5 separate regions of the Homo sapiens genome follow, and regions 1, 2, 4 and 5 are each linked to region 3. The links come from fine-mapping of genetic effects on gene expression. A gene starts in region 3. Each other region holds a variant in brackets. All regions are shown on one strand. Distances are from middle to middle.

Region 1 (5,126 bases), 21 kb before region 3:
TTGATGGTGAAAATCTGTCTCCAAGATCACCATGAAGCGGCTCCCACTTGCCCTGCCTAATGACAGGTGGCTCTGAAGACTATGGATTAAGCAAGCGAGGCCTGGACAGGCCTTGGTGGAATGGAGAGGATGGCACACCTTGGGGTGAAGGGAGTCTGAGGGCAGAGCCCAAAGCAGGTGACCCAGCAGCACCATCCTCCATGGGAGCCCAGAGGGGCCAGGGCACATGGGAGGGGCTGTGGCTTCCTCAGGCCCAGTCTCAGGGGGCAGGGAGGTGGCATGGTACAATGGCAAGTGTCGGCACTGGGGTCCAAGGTGGGGGAATCTCAGCTCTGCCACCCACAGACACCACCTGTGGCCAGGGTGGAGGGCTTCATCCCATCCACTCCTTACTGTTCCTCCTGGAGGCAGGCGCTGTATTATCCCAGTTGCAGATTAGAGGGCTTGGTCAGCTGCAAAAAGCAAGAAGCCAGGGACACGCAGCTTGAGTGGTGGCAGGAGATTTGGACCCGGTCTCCGTGTGGCTCTAGGGCCTCAGCATTTTTTTTTTTTTTAAGATGGAGTCTCACTCTGTCACCCAGGCTGGAGTGCAGTGGCACAATCTCGGCTCACTGCACTCTCCGACACCTGGGTTCAAGCAATTCTCCTGCCTCAGCCTCCTGAGTATCTGGGATTACAGGCGCCTGCCACCACGCCCAGCTAATTTTTGTAGTTTAGTAGAGACAGGGGCTCACCATCTTGGCCAGGCTAGTCTTGAACTCCTGACCTTGTGATTCACTTGCCTCGGCCTCCCAAAGCTTTTTTTTTTTTTTTTTTTTTTTTTTTTTTTTTTTTGAGACAGGGTCTTGCTCTTTCCCCAAGGCTGGAGTACAGTGCAGTGGTGTGATCATACCTCATTGTAGCCTCCAGTTCTTGAGCTCAATTGATCCTCTTGCCTCAGTCTCCCAAGTTGCTAGGATTACAGGCGGGAGCCACTACCCCTGGCTACTTTAAGCCTCAGCTTTTAACCTGCCTTGACCAACAGCCAGCAGGACTCTCAAGAGGATACTCCCACGTGGAAGAATGGGGGGCTAGGGCATTCAGCTCCATTCATGGAGAATGGCAGGGGGCTTCTTTGCATTCCCTTGGGGTTCACCCAAAAGCCCATAGTAGTCTGCCCTTGCCCACAAACTCCCCAAATCCCTCAAATCTGAATGTGCCCTTTGGAGGCCCAGGCTGCTGCTGTGGGAAGCAGGTGATGCAGAGAGGCTTTACGGGATGGGGGCGAGAATCGATTTCTGGCAACCTTGCTGCAAGGCTGAGATGGGCCTCTCCTCTTGTCACTGCATGTGCCAGCAGATCACTCCTGGGGCCTCAGTTTCCCCATGTGATCTATGATGGTATCGCGTGCTATGTAAACCAAAGCACCATCCCACAGCTGTGTTAGGAAACAGGCTTAGTGAGCTGAAGGGGCTTGTCTGGAGCTATTAGAGATCTAAATGCAGGCCTGACATAGACCTGCCTCCCAGTCCCAGATGGAGGGCCTCTGGACTCTTACCCTGTTATCAGGCCACGCACTCAACACGACTGTCCCCTCACTCACACTGTTTCTTGGGATTCCTGCCAATTGTGCCAGACTAGACAACTGACCCAGTGTCCCAGAGACTCAGTGGCGTGGGACACAATCTAAGAGGGAGCTTGAACTGGAAGGAGGCCAAGTCTCTGCCAGGACCATGCCCAGAAGCAGCTGACTGATGGGAAAGAGGCAGAGAAGGCCTGAGGGCAGTGGAGGTGAGGGAGCGCTGAGCTCCAACTTCCATTTCACTACCTCCCTTGGCTGCCCCTGAGTTTGGCAGGCTGGGTCTTTTCAGCAAATATCTTTTTTTTTTTTTGAGACAAGAGTCTCGCTGTTGCCCAGGCTGGAGTGCAGTGGTGCAATATTGACTCAAGCAATTCTTGTGCCTCAGCCTCCTGAATAGCTAGGATTACAGGTGCACATCACCACGCCTGAGCTAATTTTTGTATTTTTAGTAGAGATGGGGTTTCTCCATGTTGGCCAGGCTGATCTTGAACTCCTGACCTCAGGTGATCCTCGTCCTCCCAAAGCGCTGGGATTACAGACGTGAGCCATTGCACCTGGCCCAATATAAAGAAATGTTTTAAATTGCTTACTTCCCCTATCTTCTCAGACCCTAAATGTTTGAAGATGGTGCTCTAGGTGGTTTAATATGCGGCTTCAAGGACTTTGAGTATGTCACCATCTCTTCCAAGGCATGTGGACGCAGACCTGATGGGCTGTTCATCAGAGGGCCCCACTGAGGACAGGACCTCTTCCTAACCTTGGTGGGGTGCAGCATAGGGGGTGCCTCGCTGGGCTGAACCCCCTCTTCAAGAGGGCAGCCCAGAGCCCCTAAGCCCCCAACCAATGAGAGGCAGGATCCCTGCGTCGTGGCTGCCGAGGCCTGGGGTGATGCCCTAATGGTGCCTTGTGGAAAAGCAGGGAGTGAGACCCTAGCTTCTGGGTCCCAGGGCTCCAGTTGAGTTGGGGCTCTGCCATACGATTATAACCATCATCGAAGCCCCTCATTTTCAGTATTTTAGTGGAGGAGCTGCAAGGCTGCCCCAGGCCAGGTCTGTGTCCC[C/A]TGAGCCAGGTTCCCCCAGCATCACTGCCTAGTCTGTGACCTTGGTGAGTCACTTTTCCTTTTTGAGCACCAGTTTCCTGATTTTTTTTTTTTTTTGAGAGTGTTTCTCTTCTTGCCCAAGCTGGAGTGCAATGGCGTGATCTCGGCTCACTACAACCTCCGCCTCCAGGGTTCAAGCAATTCTCCTGCCTCAGCTTCCCAAGTAACTGGGATTACAGGCATGCAGGCATGCAACACCATGCCTGGCTAATTTTTTGTATTTTTAGTAAAGATGGAGTTTCACCATGTTGGCCAGGCTGATCTCAAACTCCTGACCTTGTGATCCACCTGCCTTGGCCTCCTAAAGTGCTGGGATTACAGGCGTGAGCCACCATGCCCGGCCTCCCAGTTTCCTGATTTGTAAAGCACAGATAAAAATGAAAATATCAACAACCTCACAGAGCAGTTCAAGATAGTATCTAGCGAGTGAGTGCTCAGTCATAGTAGTGGGTGCTCAGTCAGTAGTCAATGTCATCACTGCTGGCATTCCCATCACTCCCCCAATGCCCACATGGCGGCTCAGGCACCCTCCACTCCTCCCTGATGGGGTTACTTCCCCCTTCTCTTGTCCCTGCCCCTGCACCTGAGGAGTATGAGGCACCAGGCCACTGTAGCAGGTCCACAGGCCATCAATGCTTTAATTTTGTCAGAGGCAGGCACTGAGCAGCCCTGCTGAGGTCTCCCCAGCTACTGTGCCACAACCAGCTCGGAGCTGCCACTCTAACAGCAGAGTGGAGAGCTGGGGTCAGGGCCATAGCCCCCGGGCTGAGGAGGCCTTCTTGCAGGACCCCAACCACAGAACGAGTGGTCTTCACAACACCTGCGGCCTGCGGACTCCGTTTTTTGCCAAGGAGTCTGAGATGCTTCATGCCCATCAGACCATGGGGTGGCCTTCATGGGAGACCTGCAGGGCCAGGCTGGCCAGACTTGGCCAGAAAGACTTCCCAGGGAAGATGCTTGGCTCTCTGCTCCAAGGTGGGCCATGGTATAGGGCCCTCGAAGGGCTTGTGGCTGGGGTGATCCCAGGGGGCATTGCTCAAAGTGCACAGGAGGTGGCAGCAGGGTCAGGCGAGTTCCTGTTCCAGGGACATCAGGAGGGAGGGTAGAAGCCTAGGGAGTGTGCGAGGCTGCTGGGATGAGGGAGCTCAGGGGCTACCAGCTAACCAGCCTCAGCTCAATGGTTTCTCCATCCTTGGGTCTGTAGTCAGCAATACCTGCAGAAACAGATTGAGCAAGGAGGGGCGAATTGGGCAGAATATCGCACCCCGCAACCTCATCTTCCAGACCCCCCACCCTGAGGCTAGAGTCTGTAAGAATCCACCTGGGGCTTGGTGGTGGGAAGCTGGAACCTCCCTAAAGCCTGCTCAAAGACTCTGAACTCAGCTTCCCACAGGGTTCCTGAGGCCATGACCTCATCTGGTAATAAAAACACCTGACAGGCAGGGCCACTGTCTTTGTAATACCCTAGGGACCATCAGGAAGAGAAACTTGCGCAGTGCAGTCTGGAGAGAGAACCAGGACCACGCAGAAGTCTCCCAGGAGTCAGCTTTCACTCACTACACAGAATCCAGGCTCTAGGAGGACGCCTGGATTCAAGCCCCAGCTCTGTCATTCATTACTGCTGTGACTCTGGACAAGTTATTTAACCTCTGAGTGAGTGTCGCTGCTCTTGTTGGTGATGTGGGAATGCAGCCTGCAGGGGAACTGAAAGGGCCCTTTGAGATAGCCAGGTGTCAGAAATGTTTCCTTTCAATGGAGGTGCTATGGTCTAAAATGTCTGTGTCCCCCCAAAATGTATATGTTAAAACCTAACCCCAAAGGTGATGGTATCAGGAGGCCTTAGGGCCTTTGGGAGATGATTAGGTCATGAGAGTAGAGCCTCATCAATGGGATAGGAAAGTGCCATTATAGGCCGAGCAGGGTGGCTCATACCTAGAATCCCAGCACTTTGGGAGGCCAAGGCAGGCAGATCACTTGAGTTCAGAAGTTCGAGACCAGCCTATGCAACATGGTGAAACCACATTTCTACTAAAAATACAAAAAATTAGCTGGGCTTTGTGCCATGGGCCTATGGTCACACGTACTCAGGAGGCTGAGGTGGGAGGATCGCTTAAGCCAGGGAGGCAGAGGTTGCAGTGAGCTGAGATTGTGATACTGCACTCAGCGTGGGTGACAGAGTGAGACCCCCATCTCAAAAAAAAAAATTTTTAAGTACCATTATAAAAGAGGTTCCTTCAGCAGGCAAGGGCCAGGAAAATATTTTTTTTTTTTAAATTAAAAAACAAGGCCCCAGAAAGTTGCCATGTTCCTTCCACCATGTGAGAACACAGCCAGCAGGTAACACCAGAAAGTGGGCCCCCATCAGACACTGAATCTGTCAGTGTCCTGATCTGGGACTGCCCACCCAACCTCCAGAACTGTTAAGAAATACATTTCTGTTATTTTATTTCATTTTGAGATGGAGTT
Region 2 (5,126 bases), 43 kb after region 3:
TGCCAAGGCCTTGGGGAAGATCTGCATCTCCAATCAGCCCAAATCCTGCAGAGCTGGTCGAGTGTCTGGGTATCACCATTCCTCACCCAGGGATAGAGGCAGGACACCCTCTCTGATGAAAGATTTAGAGCTCAGGAAGTGAAATCTTGCCAGACTCATCTTCTGAGCCCTGGTCAGATGCTCTGCCTCCTGGAAGCCTTCCAGGCTGAGTTAGTTGTTCATTCTTCTGGGTTCCCACAGATTTTAGATAAACCTTGGTCCCTGGTTGTGTCTCAGCATCTTTAAGCCCTGGAGTTTGGCAAGTCTGCGTATGTACTCCAGCTCTGTCTGCCCTCTACTAGCTGCGTGACCTTGGGCAGGTGACGTTACCTCTCTGAGCTTTGGTTTCTTTACCAGGAGGGTAGACTAACAGGGGTGCTTGATGCATCAGCTGTGAGACTTAAATGAAATGCAATAGGTGGGGCAATTAGCCCTCTGGCACCCCAGCCCACCTGCACCTCTCTGTCCCTCACTCAGCCTTAGAGCCTGTTCTGGGCTCTCTGCAGGCGTCTGCGGTTGCTGTGTCCTTGGCCCAAGGATACCTGGAATCTTTCTGTGCCCTTGGATGAAAGAGCTGCTTGCTTGTTGGGGTCCAAAGAGAGGTGAGGACTGGCCAGAGCTGTCCAGTGGAGGCAGAAGGCCTGGGCAACACCTGCAGGGTACTGGGGTGTGCCACCTGCTATCCCCAGGAAGCAAACTCATGAATATTCACACCACTGGAGTGGGAGGGAGCCAGCCAGCTTGCTGCTGGGTGTCATTGGAGCATTCCTGTCTCCCAGTGATCGCAGAGGCAGCCTGGGAGTTGGACGTGGCTCAGGCAGTGGGTAGAAAGGGGCAGCCAGCCACAGCCCGAGGTGAGTGTGTCTCTTTTGCTCCACCACAGGGGTTACAGGGAAAGTAGGATACCCTGAGACCTGACTGGTGGTGATGCTCTAAGCCAGAAGGTTTACCATCCTGGGCTGAGTTTCCCTTTGTGCATGATGTGGGGGAATAAGTCCTGTTTCTCCTTCATTCCCTGGAGGGCATCAGTTCAGCTAAACAGGAGGATGGCTGGGCCTGGCCTGCTGCCAGCTGCCTGCACTGATGCAGGCCAATGTGATGGGCGTAATCTAGAAGGGCAGGAATAGATGGAGTGGGCTGGTGACGGGGGGACCGTCCATCCTGAGTGCCTGCAGTTGTCACTACTGTGGGTGGAGGAGGTGGGAGACCCAGGTTCTAGTCCTGTCTCTGCTGCTGCTGGGCTGTGTTACCCCAAAGGTATCCTTGCCCTCTCTGAGTCTGAGCCTCCCTGCCTCTTTGTCTTCTGACCCTGAGGCTAGGAGTCTCTGGCTACATTGAGATCATCCCTGGACTTGGCTGCCTGCAAGCCTCCATCGTGGGCCAGTGGGCACACACTTTGATGGGGTTGTGGCTGGGACCCTGGGAACGTAATGATGATAATGATGATAACAATGATGGCAGGCCCTGCTGAGTGACTGTCTGCTCTGCACCAGCCTCGGGCTGGGTGCTTTCCCTGTGGAATGCAGAGGATCTGCACAGCACCCTGTGATGGAGGGTCAGCTGGTACAGGTTGAGTATCCCTTATCCGAAATGCTTGGGACCAGAAGTGTTTCGGATTTCAGATTTTTCAGATTTTGAAATATATGCATATATGTAATGAGATATCTTGGAGATGGAACCCAAGTCTAAACATTTAAGTTTAGAAAGAATTTATGTTTCTTTCTTTCTTATTGATTTTATTGTTTAAGCTTTTTTTTTTTTTTGAGACGGGGTCTCGCTCTGTCGCCCAGGCTGGAGTGCAGTGGAGTGATCTCGGCTCGCTGCAAGCTCCGCCTCCTGGGTTCACGCCGTTCTCCTGCCTCAGCCTCCTGAGTAGCTGGGACTACAGGTGCCTGCCACCAAGCCTGGCTAATTTTTTTTTGTATTTTTAGTAGAGATGGGGTTTCACTGTGTTAGCCAGGATGGTCTCGATCTTCTGACCTCATGATCCACTCACCTCGGCCTCCCAAAGAGCTGGGATTACAGGCATGAGCCACTGTGCCCAGCCTAATTTTAATTTTTTTGAGATAGGGTCTTGCTCTGTAGCCCAGGCTGGAGTTTAGTGGCACGATCATGGCTCACTGCAGCCTCGACCTCCCAGGTTCAGGTGATACTTCCGCCTCAGCCTCCCCAGTAGCTGGGACTACAGGCATGCACCACCATGCCTGGCTAATTTTTGTATTTTTTGTAGAGATGAGGTCTTGCCATGTTGGTCAGGCTGGCCTCAAACTCCTGAGCTCAAGTGATCCTCCTGTGTCTGTCTTTCAAAGTGCTGGAATTACAGGCATGAGCCACCACACCCCATCTTCATGTATGTTTCTTATACACATAGCCTCAAGGTAGTTTTATTTTTCCCTTCAGGATGCTAAATAAACCTGCGCTTTGACTGAGACCTGTCACGTGAGGTCAGGTATGGAATTTTCCATTTGTGGTGTCATGTAGGCATTCAAAAAGTTTTGGATTTAGGGACATTTCAGATTTCAATTTTTATTTTTATTATTTTTTAATCCATTTATTTATTTTTGAGAAAGAGTCTCTCTCTGTCACCCAGGCTGGAGTGCAATGGCGCAATCTCAGCTCACTGCAACCTCTGTCTCCCA[G/A]GTTCAAGCAATTCTCCTGCCTCAGCCTCCCAAGTAGCTGGGATTACAGGTGCGCACCACCACACCCGGCTAATTTTTTGTATCTTTAGTAGAGACGGTGTTTCAGCATGTTGGCCAGGCTGGTCTTGAACTCCTGACCTCGTGATCTGCCTGTCTCGGCCTCCCAAAGTGCTGGGATTACACCGGGCCTGGCCCATGGGAGCTTTTACATGCATGTGCCTCACATGTATTACTTTCGTCTGTAGGTCTCCTACACAGGATCTCTCCTGTGTCTCAGTGAGGTGTTGTCTGCCTGGACCATGTCCTCATCCACATTCTCTGCACGGGCTCTATAGCCCTGGACACCTTCTGCCCTGAGGGTCATGGGAAGTCATTCATCACACATTCACCAGGTGCCAGGCTCGGGGAGCTCAGGGATGAGTCACTGGTAGGCTTGCCTGCAGCGGGGCATGGAAGGGACCTCACCTCTGGCACGCCGGTGAACCAAGGCTGGGTCAGAGTCAATGGTATGATAATAATTAATATGAGTTGATCTCCTGGGTACGTGCATTATCTCAGTCTCACAGCCTTAGGGCATGGCATGGTGGCTTACACCCAGCACTTTGGGAGGTGGAGGTGGGAGGATCACTTGAGGCCAGGAACTCAAGATCAGCCTGCAACATAGTGAGAGCCCCCATCTCTACAAAAAATTAAAAACTTAGCTGGGCATGGGTGGTATGCACTTGAGCGGCCGAGGTGGGAAATTCACTTGAGGCCAGGTGTTCGAGACCAGCCTGGGCAGTAGAGTGAGACCCCCATCTCTACAAAATTTTTTTTAAAAAGTAGCCAGGCATGGTGGTGCATGCCTGTTAGTCCTAGCTACTCAGGAGGCCGAGGCAAGAAGATCCACTGAGCCCAGGATTTCAAGGCTGCAATGAGCTATGATCGTGCCACTTCACTTCAGCCTGGGTGATGGAGCAAGATCCTGTCTTTTTAAAAAAATTATCTCATAGCCTAGTGACTGTTCTCCCTCAAGCCAGGCTCCTGGCTGCCAGCTAGCTCCTCTCCCGACCTCAGTCTGCCCAGGGGCTCTGCCTGTGATTACAGAGCGCTCTGTGTGCCTTGATCTTGCTGTTGTGTGTCCATTGCACACACGAGGAGACTGAGGCTTAGGGAGGGTGAGGTTCATAGCTTCATGCCTAAGTTTACAGTAGCTAGGCAGGAAAGGCACAACCAGCCTTGGACCCCTCAGGTGGCTGGCACGGGAGGGACGGACACCAGGGCCCCCTCTGCTTTCCCTCCCCTTATCCTGGCCGCAGGCTCAGCCCACAGAGACGGGACCCTGCTGTGCTCCCAGGATAGAGCTTCCTGTCCAACCCCACATCCCCCACTTCCTGCAATGCAACTTTCCCTCCTTCCTTCCCCTGGGCTTGGGACAGGGCTTAGGACACACCAGGCAGGGGCTGCCATGGACAAAGCAGGAAGCAGCACATTGGAGTTCCATAGACCTGGGCTCTAATTCCAGCCCTGCCCCCGCTTTGCTGAATGACCCTGGACAAGTTATGTCACCTCCTGGAACCTCACCTTTCCCATCTACCAAATGGGGGTGACAGCAGGGTGGGGGGTGGAGTGGTATCCACTGAGTGGTTGCTGAGTAGGGTCAGTTAGATGCTCTGGAGAGGCAGGCCCCTGCTTTGGGCCTGGCTCCTAACAGGGGCTCAAAAGTAAAACTAGGAGGGATAGCCCAAGGTTCAGTGGCTGGCAGCACCCAGCACGTGTGGCAGGGGCCTGGCAAGCTTTGAGAAATAGCAAATGGGGGCCAGGCTCAGTGGCTCACGCCTGTAATCCCAACACTTTGGAAGGCCAAGGCGGGTGGATCGCTTGAAGTCAGGAGTTTGAGACCAGCCTGGCCAACATGGTGAAACCCCGGCTCTACTAAAATGCAAAAATTACTTGAGTGTGGTGGTGGGCACCTGTAGTCCCAGCTACTCGAGAGGCTGAGGCAGGAGAATCACTTGAACCCAGGAGGTGGAGGCTGTAGTGAGCCGAGATCACACCACTGCACTCCAGCCTGGGCAACATAGGGAGACACCGTCTCAAAAACAAACAAAAGAGCAAATGGGAGAATGAAACCAGTGAGTGAATGAGTGAATGAGTGTACCAGTAATGGGGTTGGGGGGGTGCGGGTGGAGGAACTGTCCTGGGCGGGGCCAGGTGGAGCCTGATTGGCGGGGCAGGGAGGCTGGTCTGCCCCCTGCTGCTGGGCCTGAACCTCAGCGCCTCCACTATTGCAGCCTCCCTGATTCCAGAAGGTACCTTGGTGAGTGGGGCTGCTGGGGCCGGGGTGGGTCCTTGGGATTTCCAGAGGGCAAGCCACAGGAATCCTAATCCCTCCTCATCTTTAAGTCAGAGAAACTGAGGCCCAGAGTTTTGGACTATGATCTGGTCCACGACTCTGCCCTGTTTTCT
Region 3 (5,126 bases):
AAGAAGAAAGAGAAAAGGAAGCACAGGAGCCCACTTTGCATTAGCGTTTGTGCAGCGATCCCTGTCAATTTCACAACATACATATAGAGCTTTAAACTGGGAGAGCAGGTGTCATGGGATCCTTCCTTGTACTACACCGAGGAGGAAGGCAGGGGAGCATTCTTAGCCCACTTTACAGATAAAGGAATGAGGCTGGGTGCAATTAAGTGACTCAGTGCAGATATTTGCACCCCAAACCCCAGTTCAAGATTCCCCAGACCCCAAGGGATTGGGGCTCCTGTGGGGTCAGGTTAATGGACTAACTGTCCAAGGCTGAGGACCAGATCAGCCAGGAGGAAGAGCTCTTGCTGGTTGAACCCAGAACTCCCCTGGGGACTGTCCGGACATGAACCAAGAGCTGGGGTTCCTGGGCCCAGACCTGAGGTGTCTGATTGCATTTATGGAACACAGATGAGAGGCTTGGAGTTCTGGCCGGGCACGGTGGCTCACGCCTGTAATCTCAGCAATTTGGGAGGCCGACGCAAGAGTTTCACTTGAGCCCAGGAGTTCGAGACCAGCCTGGGCAACATGGCGAAACCCTGTCTCTACAAAAAAATACAAAAATTAGCCAAGCATGGTAGTATGCACATGCAGTCTCCAGCTACTTGGGAGGCTGAGGTGGGGGAATCACTTGAACCCACAAGGCAGAGGCTGCAGTGAGCCAAGATCGTGCCACTGCACTCCAGCCTGGGCAACAGAGGGAGAACCTCTCTCAACAAAAAACAAAACGAAAACAAACGAGGCTTCAAGTTCTAAAAACTAAGTTCAGCAAAGCTCTGGAAAAGGTGGAGCACCCTGAGTGGGTCACTCAGCCCCTCCAACCCTCGACTTCTTCACTTGACACCTGGACATGACTGCACCCACCTCTCAGGGTTTCCCCAGGGTCTCAAGAGACCATGGGGGTGAAAGTGTATTGCTCAACGTAATCCTAGGTGCAGAGGAGGAGAAAAGGCGCGTGGGCGGCCCAAAGTTCCCAAAGCCTGCCTTCTGCCTCCTGTCTGAAGGAGCAGCCCTGAGCCTCTAAGCTCAGACTCATAGACAGGTCCCAGGAGACTGTGCTCCAAGAGACCCCTTGGGGCACAGAGCTGGAGCAGGCAGGACCTCCGAAGGCTCACTTCCTGCTGCCTAGAATGTGTGTCCCCCACTCCTTTCCTGCCAGCTCCTTTTCTTCCTTCGAGTTTCAGCTCCCATGTGTCCTCTTGGTCTTCAGAAAGTCTTCCCCATGCCCAGCTATTTTTTAATTTTTTTTATTTTTTGTAGAGATGGGGTCTCCCTATGTTGCCCAGGCTGACCTTGAACTGTTGAGCTCAAGCGATCCTCCCCTCCCGCCTCAGCCTTCCAAAATGCTGAGATTTCAGGTGGGAGCACCTAACCATTTCTTTTGTCTGTCCCCCTTCCCTAGAACATAAGCTCTAGGATGGCAGGGATTAGACTTGTCTCATGCTTTGCACGTTCCCCAAAGGCTAACACTGGGCCTGACACAGAAAAGGCTCAGTATGCGCTGAATGAATGTGTGAACGAATGACTGAATTAACGGAGATCTTGTCTGGTGAGGAGTCAAACATATAATCAATCACAATAGGATGTGTTAAATGCTGAGGTCCAGCTAAGCCCAAACTGCTATGGGAGCTTAGAAGGGCAGGTAAGTTCCCTCATCCTATGCCCTAGCCACCCCACTAAGGACCCAGGAGGAAAGAGGCACAGGATAGAGGCGAGTTACTCACCACACATCTCAGTGAGGGCCCCCAGGACCCCCAGAAGGAAGAGGAAGGCCCCAAGGTGCCTCATGGCAGCAGCAGGTGGGTGAGCAGTGAGCAAGAATCGGGAAAGACTCCTGGGGCTGGCCCTGCTGAGGCTCTCCTGACCACAGCTGGTCACCGCTCCGAGAGACGCAGCTTCCTGTCACTGATTAATCCTCCATGCCTGCAATGCACGGCTAAGTCTGCAGAGGGGTGGGGCGGGGGAAGGTCTGTGGTGGCGGGGAACATAAGGCCAAAGAACAGAGGAAGGAAGGGCAGAGCAGCCCTCCTGGAGGTAGGGAACAAAGGGAGGAGGAGGGCTAGTGGGACCATGTGAGACATCTTGAGGCCATTCACGTTCCTGCTTAAAGAGCCCGGGACCAGCGCAGAGGGCCTGATGCCTGATCTGTCAAGTCTGTCCGACCGTGCCTGTCTGCTGTCCCCCCAGCTGTTCCAGTGGTGGATTGGCAGGACCGGGTGCCTACCCGGTACTCCTTACCAAAGGAGCCCCTGGTAGTGCCCACCTAGCCCAGGACAAGGAGTGGAACGGGAGCTGCAGCTGCAGTGGTCACGTGAGCAGCATTGCTGGAGTCAGCTGTTTTTCAGCACCGCCTCCCTCAGTTGTGGCGGGAGGGGATTGTGGGGGTGGGGGAGTTGGGCAGTTGGGGAGGGGGAGTTGGGCAGTTCGGTGGGGGGGGGGAGTTGGGCAATTGAGGGGAGGGTGGGTGCCGCTGGCCCCAGACCAGCCAGGCCACTTTTCTCAACCAATCCGAAAGGGCTGGGAGCCTCCTGGAGAGGACAAAACAAAACAAGTTAAAGAATGGGATTAAGTCCGGGCACGGTGGCTCACACCTGTAATCCTAGCACTTTGAAAGGCTGAGGCGGGCAGATCACTTGAGCTCAGGAGTTGGAGACCAGCCTGGGCAACATGGGGAAACACTGTCTCTACAAAAACACAAAAAACACATACAAAAAACCATAAATTAGCCTGGCGTGGTGGCAGACGTCTGTAATCCCAGCTACTTGGGGGGCTGAGGCAGGAGGATCGCTTGAACCCAAGAGGTGGAGGCTACAGTGAGCCAAGATTACACCACTGCACTCCAGCTTGGGTGACAAAGTGAGACCCTGTCTCAAAAATAAAATAAAATAAAAAGAATGAGATTGAATCGAGACACAAAGCTACCAGAAGCAGGGGTACTTGCCAGAACTCGGAAAGTAACCTCAAAAAAAATCTCTGCAAACAGGGAAGAGAACAAAAGATTCCTCATCTGCCCAGCCCCACAGGAGAATCAATGTATACGAGTTAACTAGTGGTGGCTGTGTGACTTTGGCCAGGTCACTTAACCTCTCGAGTTTAAAATAGTTCTTCCTGTGTGAGAAGAGAGGGTTAGGCAAGATCATCCTAACAGTTCCCTTTCAGCTCAATTTGTGAAGACACTATGACCTTAAAATATCTCCAATCATTTCCATGCACAATCTGCATTGCAATTATTTTATGGTAAATTGCCAAGGTTCACTCTTTTAAGACAATCTTTTTGAGCCTGATTTATCACAAACCAAGCCCTTGACATAAATAAATACAGCAACGTGTGTCTGTTTACGGAACTACTTGAAAATTTTAAATGATAGGTTGTCCAGTCAGAAAGGCTGGATGTGGCCACTAGGAGGAGCACCCCTGGAGGTTCTGAGGAAGGAGGGAGGCCAGTGGGGAGCCCAACTTCCGCAGAACCGCACGTTTGGACCTTCAGGGGAGTCATGGTGAAGTGTGTGCAATGGAGCCACCTTGGTCCTGGGTGGGACTGCCTTGGCTCCCCCAACCCTCTGCCTGTTTCCAGTAACAACTATTATGATTCCTATTTCCAGGAAGGCAGCCTGGAGGAGGTGGCCATGGAGGATAGCCTTCGTTATCGTCAGCCTCTGGTGAGAAGCAGCAGCATCCTTCCAGAGAGTCACTTCTGATCCCCAAGGTAGTTAGGGTGTCGAAGTAAAGGAGGGAGACACCCCCCTGCCTACCTACCTGGACTCAGTGCTAGAGGGTGGGGGAGTAGGAATAGGAAGACAGCATATTTCCCATACATATTAGAAATACTGGTGGCTCATGCCTGTAATCCCAGCACTTTGGGAAGCCAAGGCAGGAGGATTGCTTGAGCCCACAAGTTTGAGACCAGTCTAGGCAAGATGGTGAGACCCTGATTCTAAAAAACAAACAAAACCAAAAAATGCCAGGGATGGTGGTGTGTGCCTGTAAGTCTCAGCTAATCTAGAGGCTACAAGTGGGAGGATCACTTGAGCCCAGGAGGCTGAGGTTGCAGTGAGCTGAGATCAGACCACTGCACTCCAGTCTGGGCGACAGAAGGAGACCCTGTCCTAAAAATAAAGTAAAATTAAAAAAAGAAATAGAGTGACTGGTCAGGGGTAGTGCTATTTCAGGTCATGTGGTCAGGGAATGTGAAAAACAAAAATGATTACATCATTTAGATCAGGATTTCTATTTTTTTTATTTTTGAACTCCTGGGCTCAAGCGATCCTCCTGTCTCAGCCTCCCAAAGAGCTGGGATTACAGGCATGAACCACTGCACCTGGCCAGATCAAGATTTCTATTTGTGGTGAAAACTAGCTTGGAATGAGAAAGTAAAAGTCTGCCTGTGCTCCCACTAGACTGGGATAACAGGGACCTCTAAAGCCAGCTGCAAGCCAGCTGCAACATCAACAGGAAACATTTCTTATTTTTTCTTATTTATTTATTTTTTTTGAGACAGGGTCTCACTCGTTGCCCAGGCTGGAGTGCAATGGCATGATCTCGGCTCACTACACCCTCCTCCCGGGTTCAAGCGATTCTCCTGCCTCAACCTCTTGAGTAGCTGACATCACAGGCATGCGCCACCACCCCCAGCTAATTTTTGTATTTTTAGTAGAGACAGGGTTTCACCCTGTTGGCCAGGTTGGTCTCGGACTCCTGACCTCAAGTGATCTGCCTGCCTCAGCCTCCCGAAGTATTGGGATTACAGGCATGAGCCAGCGCGCCTGGCCAACAGGAAACATTTCTATCAAGGCCATGCATGCTACAGCTATTTGGGTGACTACTACTTTTTTTACTGATTATTTATATTTTTCCCCCTAAAAGCACAAGCAATCAGAAATTTGCTGTTTGATATCCTATTAGTAAGAACAGAACATCCCACTGTTGCCTAAAAGAGCTATGTCATTTTGACACAGACAAGCAGTCTCAGATAAGGTGTTTCTGGACTCAGCATTCCACATTTTTCTTAACTTTGTAGTTTCCAAGGAAACAAGACTCTAGGTCCACTTTGCCGTCCAGACCTGAAGCGGACCCTTCATACACAGCCC
Region 4 (5,000 bases), 190 kb before region 3:
CTGTGCTTTGCTCTCTCAGGTGTTCTCTGAAGACAGAAGCATGTCCATGGCTCATGCCTTCCTCCTCCCTCACAACCAGCCAGCCTGCCCCAGGTTCCACCAGTGCTTCCTTGGCTCACCATTTCCTTCTGACACTTCGGGAGGCCTGGACCCAGCCCTCCTCCTCTCTCCTTGGTCCCACATGGCAGCCTCTTCCCTGGGTCCCTGCCCCCTCTCGTAAGCTCCTCCAGAAAATCTATGAGTTCTTGCCTTCTGGTTTTGTGAGGGGCCTGTCAGCTCCCAGCAAAGTGTCCACAATACCACTAAGAGGGGCTTAATAGCTCTTGAATGAGCAAACCCAGCCAGGAAATACCAAGAATGGCATAATTTTAAATCTGCTTTGGAATTTTGTCTAATTCATATTCCCCGTTGCCCCTATTCTCACCCCCAACCCAGCCTCTGCCAAGACAACCCTTGGGACGGTAGCCTAGCCCAGGTCTGTCTTACTGGTAGGCATGACGGAAAGAGGCTCTAGGTTGCTAAAAATTTCAAAGATCAAGTTCCTTGCTGTAGGCAATAAAGACAAATGTGCACTGGGAAGGCATTCTGTAGTAGGTTATTACATAGCTATATTCAGGACCCTTTCAAACTCTGCAAACTAAATGTCAGGGCAAATAGAAACCCACAAAACAGGTGGCCTATTCTTGCCACAGTAATGCTTCAAAATACAGGAGCTGCCAGTGATGGACTGCTCCACAGGAGTGGTGAAGAGGATGGGTAAGCCACACACATTTTCTGCAGAATGAAAAAGGCATTTGCCACTTCTATCGAAATAGTAACTGAGATAACACTCTTCTAGGAGCAAAGCAAACTAACAACTAGCTTTTAAAAGCATCAGATGTGGAGTCAGGCCTAGGATGTACTTTCAGCTCTGTCACTACGAAACCCAGGGCAAGTTGCCCTTTGTCTTTGGGCCTCAGTTTCCTCATCTGTAATAAGAAGGCATTGAATTAACTACTGCCTGCAGTATCTTTCAGCCCTAAAACTCCAATGGCTCTTCAGAAACAAACCCTTGCAGGCTGGGCGTGGCGGCTCACGCCTGTAATCCCAGCACTTTGGGAGGCCAAGCCGGGCAGATCACTTGAGGCCAGGGGTTTTTCAAGACCAGCTTGGTCTCGAAGACCAAGACATGGTGAGACCCTGTCTCTATTAAAAATACAAAAATTAGCTGGGTGTGGTGGTGGGCGCCTGTAGTCCCAGCTACTTGGGAGGCTGAGGCAGGAGGATGGCCTCAACCTGGGAGGCAGAGGCTGCAGTGAGCTGAGATTGCACCGCTGCACTCCAGCCTGGGCGACACAGTGAGACCCTATCTCAAAAGAGAAAGAAAGGAAGGAAGGAAGGAAGGAAGGAAGGAAGGAAGGAAGGAAGGAAGGAAGGAAGGAAACCTTTGCATGTATAGTCAAATAATTTCTTTTTTTTTTTTTTTTGAGACAGAGTCTCACTCTGTCACCCAGGCTGGAGTGCAATGGCACAATCTCAACTCACTGAAACCTCCGCCTCCTGGGTTCAAATGATTGTTCCACCTCAGCCTCTCAAGTAGCTGGGACTACAGACGTGTGCCACCATGCCCAGCTAAAGTTTGTATTTTTTAGTACAGACAAGGTTTCACCATGTTGGCCAGGCTGGTCTTGAACTCCTGACCTCAGGTGATCTGCCTGCCTTGGCCTCCCAAAGTGCTGGGATTACAGGTGTGAGCCACCATGCCCAGCTGATCAAATGACTTCTGACAAGTGTGCCAAGACCATTCAGTAGGTAAAAAATAGTCTTTTCAACAAATGTTGCTGTGAAAAGTGTGTATCCACATACTGAAGAATGAAATCAAACCTTTACCTAACACCATATACAGAAATTAACTCAAAAGGATCAAAGACTGAAATGTGAGAGCTGAAACTATAAAACAGTTATAAGCAAAACCTTAGTGCAAAAGCTTCACAACATTGGAATTGGCAAACATTTCTTGGGTATGATACCAAAGGTACAGACGATAACAAAAATAGACAAAATGGACTTCGTGAAAATTAAAAAATTTATGCCTCCAAGGACACTATCAACAGAGTAAAAACAAAACCACAGGATGTGAGAAAATATTTGCAAATCATATATATGGTAAGGGATTAATATACAGAATACAGAACTCCTAAAACTCAACAACAAAAAACCCAATCCGATTCAAAAATGGGCAAAGGACTTTAGTAGACATTTATCCAAAGAAGATACACAAATGGCCAATACGTACATGAAAAGATGCTTGGCTTCATTAATCATTAGGAAAATGCAAATCAAAAGCACAATGAGATACCACCTTACACCCACTAGGACGGCTACCATCTAAAAAACTGAAAATAACAAGTGTTGGCAAGGATGTGGAGAATTTAAAACTCAGCGTTGGTGGGAATATAAAATGGTTGAGCAGCTGCTGTGGAAAATAGGGTGGAGGTTCCTCAAAATATTAAAAATAGGATTATTATTATGACCCAGCAATTCCACTTCTGGGCATATACCAGGGTCTCAAAGAGATACGTGTACACCAATATCCATAGCAGCATTGGCTGGGTATGGTGGCTCACAC[C/T]TGTAATCCTAGCACTTTGGGAGACCAAGGTGGGTGGATTGCTTGAGCTCAGGAGTTTGAGACCAGTCTGGGCAACATGGCAAAACCCCATCTCTCTACGAAAAGTACAAAGATTAGCCAGGCATGGTGGCTGGCGCCTGTAGTCCTAGTTACTCAGGAGGCTGAGGTGGGAGAATCACCTGAACCCGGGAGGTTGAGGCTGCAGTGAGCCTTGATTGTGCCACTGCACTCCAGCCTGGGTGAGAGCCTGTCTAAAAAAAAAAAAAAATTAGTTAAATAAAAATAAATAGGGCCAGGTGTGGTGGCTCACGATTATAATCCCAGCACTTTGGGAGGCCGAGGTGGGCTGATCGCGAGGTCAGGAGTTTGAGACCAGCCTGGCCAACATGGTGAAACCCCGTCTCTACTAAAGATACAAAAAATTAACTGGGTGTGGTGGCACATGCCTGTAATCCCAGCTACTCGAGAGGCTGAGGCAGGAGAATCGCTTGAAGCCAGGAGGCGGAGTTTGCAGTGAGCCAAGATTGTGCCACTGCACTCCAGCCTGGGTGACAGGGCGGAGACTTTGTCTCAAAAAAAATAAAATAATAAATAAATAAACATAGCAGCATTGCTCACAATAGCTAAAACATGGAAGACACAAAATGTAGTCTATCCATACAGTGGAATACTGGTTAGCCTTAAAAAGGAAGGAAATTCTATCATATGCTACAGCATGGAAAAACCTGGAAGACATTATGCTAAGGGAAATAGATCAGACACAAAAAGATAAATACCATATGATTCCACTTATATGAGGTACCTAGAATAGTCAAATCCAAACAGACAGAAAGTAGAATGGTGGGAGCCAGGGGCTAAAGGGAGTGAGGAATGGGGAGTTACTGTTTCATGGGTCAAGAGTTTTGGAAAATGAAAGGAGTTCAGGAGATGGATAGGTGGATTATTGCTGGTCATGGATGCACAACAACACTAATATATTTAATGCCACTGAACATTACACTTAAAAGTGGTTAATATGGTAAACGTTATGATATGTGTATTTTGCTACAACAAAAACAAATTTTGGCTGGGTGCCGTGGCTCACGCCTGTAATCCCAGCACTTTGGGAGGCTAAGGTGGGTGGATCACTTGAGGTCAGGAGTTCGAGACCAACCTGGTCAACATGGTGAACCCCCCTGTCTCTACTAAAAATATAAAAATTAGCTGGGCTTGGTGGCATGAGCCTGTAATCCCAGCTACTAGGGAGGCTGAGACATGAAAATCTCTTGAACCTGGGAGGTGGAGGTTGCAGTAAACTGAGATCGTATCACTGCACTCCAGCCTGGGCGACAGAGTAAGAACCTGTTTCAAATAAATAAATAAATAAATAATTAAAAAAAATTAAACCCAATGGTTCTTATCTAAAGCACATATATTAACAAAGAATAGAAGATAATTTAAAATAACATAGGGTAGTAGAGTTTAATATCAAAATTATTTCCCTTGTAAATATATTTATGTTTACAATGTTCTAAAACTTGAGATTCATAAGGAGTAAAAGCAAGAAAAACAAATTCAACCCTGAGCATCATCCTTGTGTCCTTGGTTAACCAAGGGGCCCTCAGTGAGGTCGATCCAGCCCAGGAGATCAGCATTTCCCTCAGCAGTCACCAAGAAGCTATATCCACATAAAGCCAGGGCCTTGTGTGACTCTCCTCCTAGATCCTAGGAAGTTCTCAAAGACTCAATGCCTTCCTTGCATGAAGCCCATGGCAGTTAGGGCAATCAGAGAAAATACTACAGAAGAGAAATGTAAACTTTCAAAAATACAGATGGCTGAAATGTCAAGAACCAGTGAGAGAAACCACTTGGCATATCTAGGGTGTTCAAAGCAGCTTGACTGGCAAGGAGCCAACTTGAAAATAATTATGGTTAATAAGTTTTTAAAAAAGGAAAGATAAAGGACAAAATGGATGAATACATGGAGCATTTCAACAGAATTGGAAATCTATACAAATAATCAAATAGACATTCCAAGATTTAAAAACATATCTGAAGCTAAGAATGCACTGGAGGCTGGGCAGGGTGGCTCATGCCTGTAATCCCAGCACTTTGGGAGGCCAAGGCAGGCGGATCACCTGAGGTCGGGAGTTTGAGATCAGCCTGACCAACATGGAGAAACCCCATCTCTACTAAAAATACAAAATTAGCTGGGCGTGGTGGCGCATGCCTGTAATCCCAGCTACTTGGGAGGCTGAGACAGGAGAATTGCTTGAACCTGGGAGGCGGAGGTTGTGGTGAGCCGAGATCATACCATTGCACTACAGCCTGGGCAACAAGAGTGAAACTCCATCTCAAAAAAAAAAAAAAAAAATGCATTGGATAGGTTTAACGGCAGAATGGATAAAAAGAA
Region 5 (5,126 bases), 60 kb before region 3:
TATGAACAATCCAACTTCTCAATCTCTCATTTACATTTTTCTGACCTCTATGCATAGCCTAGGTGTGAGGTGATGGAAAAAGCTGGTTTAGAGATCAAGATGCTCAAACACAAAAGTCCCCCAAATCCTGAGAGTTTTTTGTTTTTTTAAAAAAATCCTTAAAACATTTAAAGACGCATAAAACTCTTCACCCACTCAGTGGTGCAAAAAATTTACCAATACTAGAAGGGGAGGAGGCTGGCAACGACTGGAAATATTCCCTTTCAAGTAATAAATAATGGTTATTTTGAACCAAATTGCTTTCCACCTCAAGTCCTCCATGGATGGGAGCCTGGAGGATGCAGTGATGGGGGTTATGGAATGGAAAGGAGCGTGGGTAATTGGGTTTGTGAGGATTGGGGCCAGGCAGAGGGAACTGGGGGCTTTTCCAGGACCACTGGGGAACACAGAGGCTGAGAAGGGGAGTGTGGGATGGGTTCGAGCTGGGGAGGACCTCGGCCTCGCCAGGCTCTAAGGAGAGTCACAGCTCACCACCTAGGGCGCTGGGACCACACGATGTCATGCCTGGGAGACTGAAGGGCTAGGACAGATTCTGAGAAAATGTGGACTGGAGATGGGGATTCCAGGTTCTCCCGGGAGTCCAGGCGAGGGAGTTCCGGCTTCAGGGAGTCCCAAGAGCTAGACTGGGAAGGGGCTGGTGCCCAGGACTATGAGAAATCCAGACTCCCCTGGGGTGTGAAAAAGGGCCGAGGTCCGGCTGAGGGAGAGCGAGTCTGAAAGAGTTCGGGCTCCCTTGCGGGTCCGAGAGTCTAACGAAGGCTCTGGGCACCCAGGCCGCACCTGAAGAGCACCAACGACTGCTCGGTCCGCGGCGCGGGAAGGAGATGTGCGGCTGAACCCCTACGCCGATTACTTAGCGGCGGCCCTATCGAGAGGGTGGTTCGAGCCCGAGGTGGCGCCGGTCCCGTAAATCGTGGAGGATCTCAGGTCCCCTGTGACCAAGGGCGTAGTCAGCTGTGTCATGGCGGCTTCCCTGTTCGAGAAACAGTTGGAAACTGGAGGCCGGTTGGGAGTCATGGTCGTTGGGCGCACGGAGGCCGGTTGGAAGCCATGGTCGTTGGGCGCCAGGAGGCCGGTTGAGAGCCGTGCTCGTTGGACGCGCGCAGACCTGGAGTTAGTCCCTGGGCGGAACCTGGAGCCCCGCGCGGCGCGTTGCCTGGGAGACGCATAAGGGGGCGGGGCCGGGGAGGGAGTGTCGCACATGCGCACAGAGCCCGGGCGGCTACGGAAGCGGTGAGACTGTCTCTCGGCTGCAGCCCTGGTGCGACCCGGCCCGTTGCCGTAGAGATGGGCAGGGCTGGATGGAGTGGGGTGCGGTGAGCTGAGCTGACCCTGCTTCGCCACGGGGACTGCAGTGACCCCGGCTTGCCGGCAGGGCGGGTAACAGGTTGAGCCAGGGTGGGGCTGCTCAGGGGCGTGGAGCCGAGGCCAGGATTTCTCTGAAGACCCGGCACAGGCTATTCCTTTCTGCGACGAGCCCATTGCTATGGAAACCAAAGCGTTAGGCCAGCGGGGATTGAGGCTGCGGGATCATGACGGGTCTCTCTCCCGAAGAACCTTGCCTAAGGCTTCCCCAAGCGGCTACTTCCTGAGCGAACCCGCCCACCCGCCTGAAGGAGAGAGGTAAAACCCTGGGGGTCCTGACACTAAGCAGGCGAAGAAGCCTATTCCAATGCCAGCTCCCCTAGGAAACCTACCCGGCCCACCCCTAGAAGTGATGCTTCGCTCTCGTTAACTCTTGGACTTTGTTCCATGTTTATAACTTAGTATTTCACGAACGCCCCGCGGTGTTTGTTCATTTTTCCCACACATAATGGACCATAAAGGTCGGCTTCTTTGCTTTATGACTCGTTCTGAACAAGTCCTTTTCCGCGCTGTGTCTCACTTTCCTCTTTTGTAAAATGGAAATATTAACTCTAGACGCCGGTCTGATTAGGTTGCTTTGAAGATCGAACCAGATGAGGGAAGCCAAATACTTCATAGGCTGTAAAGTGGTGAAGCTGAACTGCTACCGAGTTGCTATTTTTTTCTCCTCCTCCCTCTCAAGCTAAACGTTCTTTAGATCTTTTGTGATTTCTTCAGGTGGTCTTTGCGACTCCCTAGGCTCCGACCTGGAAGAAATCTTTTTTACACTTCCCTTTCACAGAGCCCTGCATTTTAACTTCCCTATCAGAAGCGAGAAAAATAGTTATCATTTTGAGAGGGCTTACTCTATGCCAAGCCCTGAGAAAACTCTTTACGTGGATTATCTCGTTTAATTTCACAACATCCTTTTAAGGTAGGTACTGTTATCCTATTTTCAAGCTCTGTCTGCCTGTAATTGCCTGTTTACTATCTGTTTCTCCCACTAGTCTTTGAGCTCCCTGAGAAAAGGGGCCATGCCTGTCTTGTACATTTCAGTATCTCCAACACCTAATACAGTGCCTGATAGAGATTGCTTTTTTTTTTTTTTTTTTTTTTTTTGAGATGGAGTCT[C/A]ACGCTGTCTCCCAGGCTGGAGTGCAGTGGCACGATCTTGGCTCACTGCAGCCTCCGCCTCCCGGGTTCAAGCAATTCTCCCGTCTCAGCCTCCTGAGTAGCTGGGACTACAGGCCCATGCCACCACGCCTGGCTAATTTTTGTATTTTTAGTAGAGACGGGGGTTTCACCATGTTGGTCAGGCTGGTCTTGAACTCCTGACCTCAGGTGATCTGCCCGCCTCGGCCTTCCAAAGTGCTGGGATTATAGGCTTAAGCCACCGTGCCCAGCCCTGATAGATATTTCTTAACTAGCATGAAAATGACTCCTCGCATCACTACCCTCACCTGCAAGAGCATTGTCACTTCTGCAGACTTTTAGTGGCTATAATGAACAGCACATTCCTCTATTCCCGTTACCCACTGGGCACTGGTTTGGGGGGACATCAGTTCACTTCTCTATGGATTTTCTGATGACGAGGATCCAGAACATTCCTTAGCATTTAGACTTCCATCTGGGTTCAGGAGGCTTTTTCTTTGCCCTTCATATCACCTCTGTAGCAAGCCAGCCCTCTCTGTCCTTCCGGGAATGAGCCTGATGCATTTGAGTCTGGGGCATTGGCAGGTAGGATTTGCCTATACAACCTTTGGTCTTTCTCTTTAGTAGCCTCAGAACCACCCCCATCCCCACCCAGCCCCTCCCTGGAATTCTGGAGACACGCTGCCAGAGAACTCATTCTTTCCAGAAAACCTCTCAGAAGGCAGAGTCATAGCTGTTGGGAGTCATTTCTTCATTCAACAAATATTTATCAAGCACCTACTTGTGGGGACACAGCGCTTGGCACTAGTTGGTGATAGAGTGGGAGTGAAGACAGACACCATCATATCCCTAAAGGGCTCACAGTCTCTTGGGGAGACAGACATTAATCAAATAATCAGACAGATCGGAGCAAAACTACGTCTTCAGTAAGTGTTAGGAAGGAGAGAACATAGGGCTAAGAAAGCCTGGAGCAGAGTTGGTCAAACGTGAGGGAGGGGTGTGATCTAAGGAGATTTCCCTTAAAACAGTTACCTTTAAGTTGATATCTTAAGGCTCCTCAGACTTCTGCAGTCCTCTGCTGAATGGACCAGATCAGGATCTGATGGGTTCATAAGGAAAGAGACTGAGAGATCAGCAGGGGCAAAGGCCACTGGCTGGAGAGGACAGGTTGTCCCTAAGGAACTGTAAGTGGCTCGGTTCACCTGAGGCCCTTCAGAGCATGGAGAAGCCTAATAAGAGGCTGGAGAGACAGGCAGGAGCCAGGTCACAAATGGCCTTGACAGCCAAACTAAGTGGCTCCATCTTATCCTCACAGTGGATAGCCACTGAAATATATTAAGCAGGGAAACAAAACTTTGGCTCCTCATTTCTCGTGCCTGGTGAAGACTGCCACTTGGCCTTGAAAGGTGTGATCTAAATCCAAATGTCCCTATTTCAGCGGAATGTATAAAGATGTCCTGGTTTTTGCAGCTTTGTTTAAGACTGAGAAAGTGAGGGTCCGAGAGTCTAATGAATGCTCTGGGCACCCAGGCCGCACCTGAGGAGCACCGACGACTGCACGGTCTGCGGCGCGGGAAGCAGATCTGCGGCTGAACCTCTACCCCAATTACTTAGCGGCGACTGAGCCTATCGAGCAGGTGAAGGGAAGGGGTCTGCCTCTCCCTGGGGTGTGTTTCACAGCTCTGCTGCAGGCAGCATGATGCAGGTGTGGCAGGTCTTCCTAAGGCCCTGCTGTCTCTGTGCTTGTCCCTGGGGTTGCTGTGGTGCCCATTATGCTGGCTTCCAGGAAGCTTTCAGCCACTCCCTTTCCCAGGCCTTCTTCAGAGGCAAGGTGCAGGAGCATGTCTAACAATTTAGGACTTTGTATTTGACATCAGCTTCGCATGGGCATATCCTGTCTCTTTAAAGAGATGGTTCTTAGAGGGGGAAAATGGGAACCCTCCCTACTCTTATACCAGCCTCCTCAGTGACTGCCAGCACAGTGGGCTCTGGTTCCATGCCACTGGCTCAGGACCTTATGATTTGGGCATAAAGTCAGAAGACTGAGGAGGAAGACTGTACAAATGGTTCCCACTCAGAGGGGCTGGAAGGAAGGAGAGAATTTGGAAGAGCAGCAAGAAAAGGGCTCTGTGAGCTTAAATGGAGAATCAGGCCAAGGCACAGCTGAGGGACACAAGTCATCTGCCCAACTAGAGCTGTGGGACCCCTCAAGGGAGGCCTCAAGTGCCAGACTTGGGGACTTGCCATTTGTCCTATAGGGCAGTGCACATTAGACCACCTGAGAAGCATGCTGAAAATGCAGATTCATGCTCTTCACCCCGAGAGTCTGACTGTGGGTTTGGAGAGGGACCTGGGTATCTGTACTTTAAATGAGTTTGCTGGGTAGTTCTGCTGTGATGGTCAGAGGACTGCCTTGGGGAATGCTATAAGCCTATCCATCCATTTCCCAGGGATCCCCTGGAATTGGCCCTCTGGGCACCTGCCCTCTAAACATCCTCTCCCTCTCTGCAGTTTTCCATGGACACAGCCTAGCAGAAAGACGCAGCCTTCGTGCTTCGCTGACTGCTGACCAC

The links. PIP is the estimated chance that this variant, and not a neighbour inherited with it, causes the effect. A credible set is the group of variants that fine-mapping cannot tell apart.
Region 1: its variant is the best candidate, but not a certain one, in a credible set for the expression of TCN2 in whole blood (TOPMed, PIP 0.61).
Region 2: its variant is the best candidate, but not a certain one, in a credible set for the expression of TCN2 in subcutaneous fat (FUSION, PIP 0.85).
Region 4: its variant is the best candidate, but not a certain one, in a credible set for the expression of TCN2 in whole blood (INTERVAL, PIP 0.89).
Region 5: its variant is the best candidate, but not a certain one, in a credible set for the expression of TCN2 in atrial appendage (GTEx, PIP 0.65).

Annotation. Positions count from the first base shown.
Region 1 is chr22:30,625,208-30,630,333 of GRCh38, reverse strand. TCN2 (transcobalamin 2) reads right to left here. Exons shown (of 9, transcript NM_000355.4): 9 at 3,063-3,874. The coding sequence ends at 3,813. Among named protein-coding and RNA genes, the nearest start is that of SLC35E4, 8.0 kb to the left of the region's middle. The variant C/A (reference allele first, on the strand shown) is at 2,622.
Region 2 is chr22:30,560,592-30,565,717 of GRCh38, reverse strand. All of the region lies in intron 1 of GAL3ST1 (galactose-3-O-sulfotransferase 1), which reads left to right. Among named protein-coding and RNA genes, the nearest start is that of GAL3ST1, 12 kb to the left of the region's middle. RefSeq lists a silencer at 89-289. The variant G/A (reference allele first, on the strand shown) is at 2,679.
Region 3 is chr22:30,604,033-30,609,158 of GRCh38, reverse strand. TCN2 (transcobalamin 2) reads right to left here and starts at 1,985. Exons shown (of 9, transcript NM_000355.4): 1 at 1,764-1,985. The coding sequence starts at 1,827. It also overlaps a transcript of PES1 not described here. RefSeq lists enhancers at 1,823-2,117, 1,620-2,199.
Region 4 is chr22:30,795,480-30,800,479 of GRCh38, reverse strand. All of the region lies in intron 2 of OSBP2 (oxysterol binding protein 2), which reads right to left. Among named protein-coding and RNA genes, the nearest start is that of MIR3200, 66 kb to the right of the region's middle. The variant C/T (reference allele first, on the strand shown) is at 2,609.
Region 5 is chr22:30,664,019-30,669,144 of GRCh38, reverse strand. It overlaps DUSP18 (dual specificity phosphatase 18), which reads left to right and starts at 1,270. Exons shown (of 2, transcript NM_152511.5): 1 at 1,270-1,683; 2 at 5,065-5,126. It also overlaps a transcript of SLC35E4 not described here. RefSeq lists an enhancer at 783-1,172. The variant C/A (reference allele first, on the strand shown) is at 2,536.